Linked DNA regions of Homo sapiens. The protein of the gene in region 1 purifies or fractionates together with the protein of each later gene. This does not show direct contact. Each region holds a gene or a part of one and is shown on either strand. Other genes may lie near its edges.

The links. The genes of interacting proteins can lie anywhere in the genome.
Region 2: the proteins of PPP2R3C (region 1) and CCDC77 purify together in Homo sapiens (affinity purification with mass spectrometry; one large-scale study listed by BioGRID and IntAct). This does not show direct contact.

Annotation. Positions count from the first base shown.
Region 1 is NC_000014.9:35,108,491-35,111,990, forward strand, and holds part of PPP2R3C (serine/threonine-protein phosphatase 2A regulatory subunit B'' subunit gamma), read right to left. Parts: intron 2,153-3,500; exon of another isoform or gene 2,140-2,152; coding exon 2,035-2,139; intron 1,442-2,034; coding exon 1,329-1,441; intron 1-1,328. UniProt on the Homo sapiens protein: May regulate MCM3AP phosphorylation through phosphatase recruitment. May act as a negative regulator of ABCB1 expression and function through the dephosphorylation of ABCB1 by TFPI2/PPP2R3C complex.
Region 2 is NC_000012.12:400,479-404,443, reverse strand, and holds the start of CCDC77 (coiled-coil domain-containing protein 77), read right to left. Parts: upstream 2,801-3,965; 5' UTR 2,760-2,800; intron 1-2,759.

The DNA of each region.
Region 1 (3,500 bases):
CAAGAGATCGAGACCATTTTGGCCAACATGGTGAAACCCCGTCTCTAGTAAAAATACAAAAAGTATTTGTATTGGGTATTTATATTGTATTATATTGTATTTATATTGGCCCAGCCAATATTTGAGGCATTTAAAATGCTTAACATATTCTTTTGTTAATACAATAATACTTGGGAGGCTGAGGCAGGAGAATCACTTGAACCCAGGAGGCGGAGGTTATAGTGAGCTGAGATTGCGCCACTCCCCTGCAGCCTAGCGACAGAGCAAGACTCCATCTCAAAAAAAAAGATAAATATATATATATAAACAGAGATTTGCTCTGTTGCCCTGACTGATCTCGAACTCCTGGCCTCAAGTGATCCACCTGCCTTGGCCTCCCAAAGCACTGGAATTACAAACGTGAGGCACCATGCCTAGCCTAAGTCATAAATGTTTGCATTCTTTTTTTTTTTAATTAAAAGTTTTTTTTATTTTGCAGAGATGGGCACGTGAGCCACAGTGCCTGGCCTTGCATTCTTTTTTGTTTGCTTTCGTCTGTCTTAAGGCTGAAAGTGTCATAAACTATATTATTTCTTTTTTTTTTTTGAGATGGAGTCTTGCTCTTTTGCCAAGCTGGAGTGCAGTGGCACGATCTCGGCTCACTGCAACCTCCGCCTCCAGGGTTCAAGCGATTCTCCTGCCTCAGCCTCCTGAGTAGCTGGGATTACAGGCACACGCCACCACGCCCAGCTAATTTTTGTATTTTTAGTAGAGACGGGGTTTCACCATGTTGGTCAGGATGGTCTTGTTCTCTTGACCTCGTGATCCGCTCACCTCAGCCTCCCAAAGTGCTGGGATTACAGGCATGAGCCACCACACCTGGCTATATTATTTATTTTAATAACTTCATACCAATGTGATTTTTTGACTGTAAATAATTTTATTAAATTTAATTAGTAACTTAAATGGACTCAAATGTCATTCCATTTACTTCATTTAATATTTGAGGATTTGTTTATTTTTTTTAAAGGTAAGGTCTTGCTCTATCGCCCAGGCTGGAGTGCAGTGGCTTAATCACAGCTCATCCTCCCGGGCTCAAGCAATTCTCCCACCTCAGCCTCCGGAGTAGCTACAGGTGTACGCCCCCACACCCAGATAATTTTTTTAGTAGAGACAAGATCTCCCTAAGTTGCCCAGGCTGGCCTCAAACACCCCAGCTCAAGCAATCCTCTCACCTCAGCCTCCAAAACTGCTGGGATTACAGGTGTGAGCCACTGTGCCCAGCCAATATTTGAGGCATTTAAAATGCTTAACATAACACATTCTTTTGTTAATTATATTATTCTTACTTGCACTTTGCTCCAGCCTTTTCACCAACCTTCAAAAAGTTTTCGTAATTGATCATCGCTTCCTCTCCAATCATAGGTGGTGTCTGGTGTTTGTCCAGCAAAAACCATAAGTTCTTAAGAGAATTGTGGAAGTGAAGATGTTGTAAGTTAAAAACAACAAGATTTTAATATGTAGTTAAATGTGTGCTTTCCACTAAAATGAGAGTTTGTTGGCAGAGTCAATATTAAGATGAATCTCATGCCCTATTATCCTTTTGATTACTAACAATAAAAATAACATTTATTGAGTGCCTACTAAGCTTTTGATATACACTGCCTCTTTAATCCACATCTCTATGATATAGTTAGCTATCCCTACTTTAGAGATGATAATCGAAGCACAGAGATGTTAAGTCCATTGCCTAAAGTCATATAGCAGGGCTGGGATTTGAACCTCTGTAGTCTGACCCTACAGCAGTGGTTCTCAACCTTGGCTGCACATTAGAATCACCTAGGGCCTTAAACAAAAATAACAAACAACACTATGTTTGGGGTACATGACCCATGCAAACTCAGCGGCTGCTTCTGGTGGGAACTGCTGCTTCAGAGCCTATGTAGTACCACTCTGTAGTACGGACTCCATTAGGCACCAAGAAATCCTGCATGATTTAAGTAGCACAAATGAGAAATGGTTAACATCTAAAGCAACTTTTTGCTTTGTTCTTACCTGTAATTCTTCATTATCTAACAGTTCTCTGCTTTTTCTTTGTAGAAAGACAGCTCTTGATTCCTCTCTTAATTTCTGTAGTAAGACTTCATCTTCAGCAGGCAGCTGAAAATACAAGGTAAATTTCTACATGTAAATTTTAGACTACTGGATCCTATAAAATGTATGTGGCCTCATAAAATAACTGTATGCCACCGCCTCGAATTATTTCTTGTATCTCACCTTAATTGTGCTTAACATTTGTTTAACAAAAACTGATCCACAGAGAATCGGTGATCAGAAAGGCTGGATCTCTGCCCTGAAAAAGCCATTCTAAAAGCTAGTCTAGACCAAGTTTCATTTTATTTTCTTAAAGCACTGTGTTTCTATTGTCACCTTAGAATGACACAGAATTGGCTGGGCATGCTGGCTTCCTTAGAATGATATAGAATTGGCTGGGGGCAGTGGCTCACACCCGTAATCCCAGCACTTTGGGTGGCCGAGGCAGGCGGATCATGAAGTCAAGAGATCGACCATCCTGGCCAACACTGTGCAACCCCGTCTCTACTAAAAATACAAAAATTAGCTGGGCATGGTGGCATGTGCCTGTAGTCCCAGCTACTCAGGAGGCTGAGGCAGGAGAATTGCTTAAACCCAGGAGGCGGAGGTTGCAGTGAGCTGAGATCACGCCACTACACTCCAGCCTGGCAACAGAGCGAGACTCCATCTACCAAAAAAAAAAAAAAAAAAAAAAGAATGATATAGAAGAATTAAATGAGGATTAACTGGAGATTGACAATTTCAAAACCACCTTTGCAAAATTATAACAGTGACAAAATGATGACAGTGAAAGAGATCTGACCTAACCAACTCCATCTTGTTTTTAACCTCCAATCTGCCCTTGGTCATTCCTGGGCATGGGCCAAGATATTAATAAATTTGGGAGAAATTTAGTTTATGATTTAAATGATAATAGCTCATCCCAAAACTAAACTGCCTTTGTAAAACTAATGAAAGGACACCAGGTCAGGAGGATGCGAAGGACCAGAATTCTGCTAAGATGCAGGTCAGTTAAATGATTAGCAGTTATTATTCCAGAGGGCACAAAAATTTGCAACATCCTCAATTACTCCTGTAAATAACATCACTATTGTAGTACACAGGACTGGCCTTTTGAGATGTCTTTTCAGGCTTTTGCACTTCTGACTACCCAATGGCCCCTCTCAGACCAGCCACTCCTCTGTGGCCCCAACCCAGAAGCAGACTCAGCACGCAAGGACCAGGACTGTTTTTCTATATCCCTGTGATTCCATCCCCAACCAATCAGCAGTACCCATTCCCTAGCCCCTGCCTACCAAACTATCCTTGAAAAACCCTAGCCTCCAACTTTTCAAGAAGGCTGATTTGAGTAATAATAAAACTCCTGTCTCCCATTTAGCTGTCTCCATGTATATGAAATTATTTCTCTCTTGCAATTCCCATCTTGA
Region 2 (3,965 bases), on another chromosome or scaffold:
GCAGACATCCAAATTAATAAATTCAATTGCTCTTTTCTGTTTCTATCCTCCTCCATCCAATAGTTACTCCTTCACTTGTATTCTTAATTAGATAGTGCCAACTACCTATTTATTTATTTATTTTTTGAGACAGAGTCTCACTCTGTTCAGCCCAGGCTGGAGTGCAGTGGCACGATCTTGGCTCACTGCAACCTCCACCTCCTGGGTTCAAGTGATTCTCCTGCCTCAGCCTCCCCAGTGGCTGGGATTACAGGCACCTGCCACTGTGGCTAATTTTTTTTGTATTTTTAGTAAAGACAGGGTTTCGCCATGTTGGCCAGGCTGGTCTCGAACTCCTGACCTCAGATGATCCACCCACCTCTGCCTGCCAGTGTTGGGATTACAGGCGTGAGCCACTGTGCCTGGTAGTGCCAACTACCCTTTAAAAATATATCACTTTGGGACCGGACCTTGGCATGGCCAGGCCATGGCAAGACCCTGTCTTTACCAAAATTTTAAAAATTAGCTGGGCACAGTGGCAATGTAGTCCCACCTGCTTGGTGCGAGGATCACTTCAGCCTGAGGGTTCAAGGCTGCAGCGAGCAGTGATCGTGCCACTGCACTCTAGCCTGGACAACAGCGCAAGACCCTGTCTCAAAAAACAATTAAAATAGGCTGGGCACAGTGGCTCATGCCTGTAATGCCAGCACTTTGGGAGGCCAAGGTGAATGGACTGCTGGAGGTCAGGAGTTTGAGACCAGCCTGGGCAACATGGTGAAACCCTGTCTCTACAAAAATTACAGAATTAGCTGGGAGTGGTGGCACGTGCCTGTAGTCCCAGCTATTCAGGAGGCTGAGGCAGAGGATTGCTTGAGCTTGGGAGGCAGAGGCTGCACTGAGCTGAGATTGCCCCACTGCTCTCCAGCCTAGGTGACAGAGTGAGACCTTACCTGGAAAAAATAATAATAAAAATAAATATTGCTTTGTAGTTGAGAATGTGGGCTCTGATATCAGACTTGGGTTTGAGTCAAAGCCCTGCCTCTTATTAGCTGTGTACCTCAGGCAAGTTATCCTCTCTAAATTTCAGTTACTTCTATGTCATAGGTTGGTGTACGGATATAAGGCCGAGGGACAGTGTTTGACACATATATAAGCACTCAGTAAATGTGGACTATTATTATTATTGACAATTTTACTCCCTTGGCTCAGAGGTTCTGTCTTCAAGTTTCTTTATCATTTCCTCTAACCATTTCTTTGGGAACATCATTATTCCTCCTGTTTTTATTATTAACTCTGTCATCTAAAACACTACATGGCATACAGTAAGTAACAATTACATGTTGAATAAATAAACGACATCTCTTTCAACCTCTTGATTTGAATTAACAAAAATGTAGTGGACATTTTCACCCATAGTCCCACTGGCACTTGAAACGTTTAACTTAAAAAAGAAATCACTCAAGTTAGGTATTTTTTTAGCATCTCAAAGCTAACATTTCCTAAACCTAACACATCATCTTTTTATCCAAACATGCCCCTTCTGACTTTCCTATTTTAGTTACTAATTCAGCGTTTCCAAGCAACCGGGAGTTGGCAACTTAAATTCATCATTTGATCACTCATTCTTCTGAACCTCCTGTCTAACCATATGAATATCTTGTATATTTTATCTCCACAATGACCATGTTAATTCAGAGTCTCAATACTTCTTACCCACACCATTACAACACCTTAACGGTTCTACCTACTCCTTGCGTCTCCTGGACCATTTTCTTTAATAAAATACATCAGTAGCACCTCATAGCCTAAAGCATTAAATCCAATTTGTTAGCCTAGAATTCATGGCTTTCTACATAAGGGCCAAACCTAACTTTCCTGCCTTATTTCTCTCTACTCTCCTAAATGTACCGTTTCCAGATAACTTTCCTGCCTCCATACCTTTGTTCATGAGCTTCCCTCTAGCTGGAACACAACTCCCTCCACAACCCTCATAATTTCACTTAACAAAATCTAGTCTGTACATGAAAACTCATCTTAAATACCACCTCCTTTTTCTCTTTCCTGAGTCTCCCCATCCAAAATGATTTAGCAAAAATGATCTAAGTGCAAAAGAACTGCCTTTGAAATTATCTACAAGTCAACATATTAGAGTGCTTTATTGCTATCGTTTCTCCCATGCTAGCGTGCGCTCCCTACAGACAGAAATCGCGTCTTACTCTTCATTGCCTCTTCCAAAGGAACAATGCCTTTGTTTATAGGTAAATTAACGGGTTTCAGCTAGGGTCTCTGCACCTATCTCCAATACCCTTGCTTAGATATATTCTTATAGCTTGTCTACTAACAATTAACATTTGTGTAGCACTTTGAATTTTTTTCTTTTAGCCACGTGACAAATCTGTACAATTTATTATCCCAACAACCGTTCAGTATTTTCACTATCCCTTATTTCACAAATGAGGAAACTGAGAGCTAGACCAGCGTGGGGTTAGAGTACACCGGAACGCATCTCCAGGGCGCCCGAATCCCGTACTCCTTTTCCCACTTCATCCCATTCTCGACCGCCTCACTGCTCCAGGTCCCAACGCTCCAGCACTCCTGAGGTCTCTCCCTTTGCACATTGGAGCTTTCCTCCTCCGGTCCCCAGCCCCTCCACGGACACCACATTCAGGCTCACGTCCTCTCCTCCGCACTGCTTCCGCAGTTACTTCTCCCTAACCAGATTTTCTTCCCAAGGCTTCTTACCTAACCCCTTCACCCCAAACCCGAAACTCTATACTCACGACACACTAAGACTCCGAGTCAGGGAACGCAACTGAAAAACAAAAGTCAAACCAAGGAGCGGCGCGGCGCCACTGAGCGTCCCTGAATCCGTGCAATCGCGAAGAAGTTTACATGGCCCTTTGGAATGCGCACCAATGGGAAGGGCCTTCACACAGAGGCCCGCCCCCATCTCGCCCCTCCTCGCGGTGCTCCCGACCGCGCAGAGGTCTCTGGGAAATGTAGTTTTCTTCTGCCTGGAGCTCTGCGCGGGGCGACGCAGCTGGGCTGCAACCCGCTCCTCCAGGGACGGGTAGTGTGACGTTTGGGGTCAGAACGCACCACTTTCGGGCACCCCCACTTAAGATTGCTCAACTGCTTTGAGCTCAGGTACTTCGCGTTCATGGTACATATATGTTGTAATTTCCAAGCTTGTCTCAAGAGATAAAGATTCTAAGAAAAGTTTCTTCTTCCATGACCGGGTGGCCTAGAGCCAGGATAGGACCTGAGGTTCAGTTTCTACGGTCAGGGGACTATGTATTAAAATTCTACTATTTGTTCCATAGCAAACACTGCTTCCTTTTCCGGAGAAATGTAAGACACTGGGCTTTAATGATAAAAGCAAGTTCAAAATCCATTATGGTCTTATCTTTCCAGAAAGCAAGGTGTAAAGGTGGGGGAAAAGCACTTTCGTCTCAGAATTACAGCTACTGGTATGGAAAAGCTGGGGCCCTTCGCTGGTGTGAGTCCTAAGGATGTCTAAATGGAACGTGCATCTGCTACAGGCTCGCACTTTCCTTTATTGCGCTTCCCAGGTAACTGTTTTTACAAATGTAAGGTTTGTGGCAACTCTGCATGGAACCAAATCTATCTGCGCCATTTTTCCTACAGCACAGGCTTACTATGTGTCTCTGCACCACATTTGGTAATTTTCACAATATTTCAAACTTTTTCATAATTATTGTATATGTTATGCTGATCTGTTATCCTTTATATTACTATTATAATTGTTTAGGGGCACCATGAACCATGCCCATATAAGATGGCAAACTTAATTCATAAATGTTGTGGATGTTTTAACTGCTCCACAGACCAGCAGTCTCCCTGCCTTTCTCCCTCTCTTCTTGCCTCCTTATTCCTGTGATACAACAATATTGAAATTAGACCAATTAACAATCCTACAGTGGGGGTTCAAGTGAAAGGAAGAGTCACACATCTCTTACTTTAAA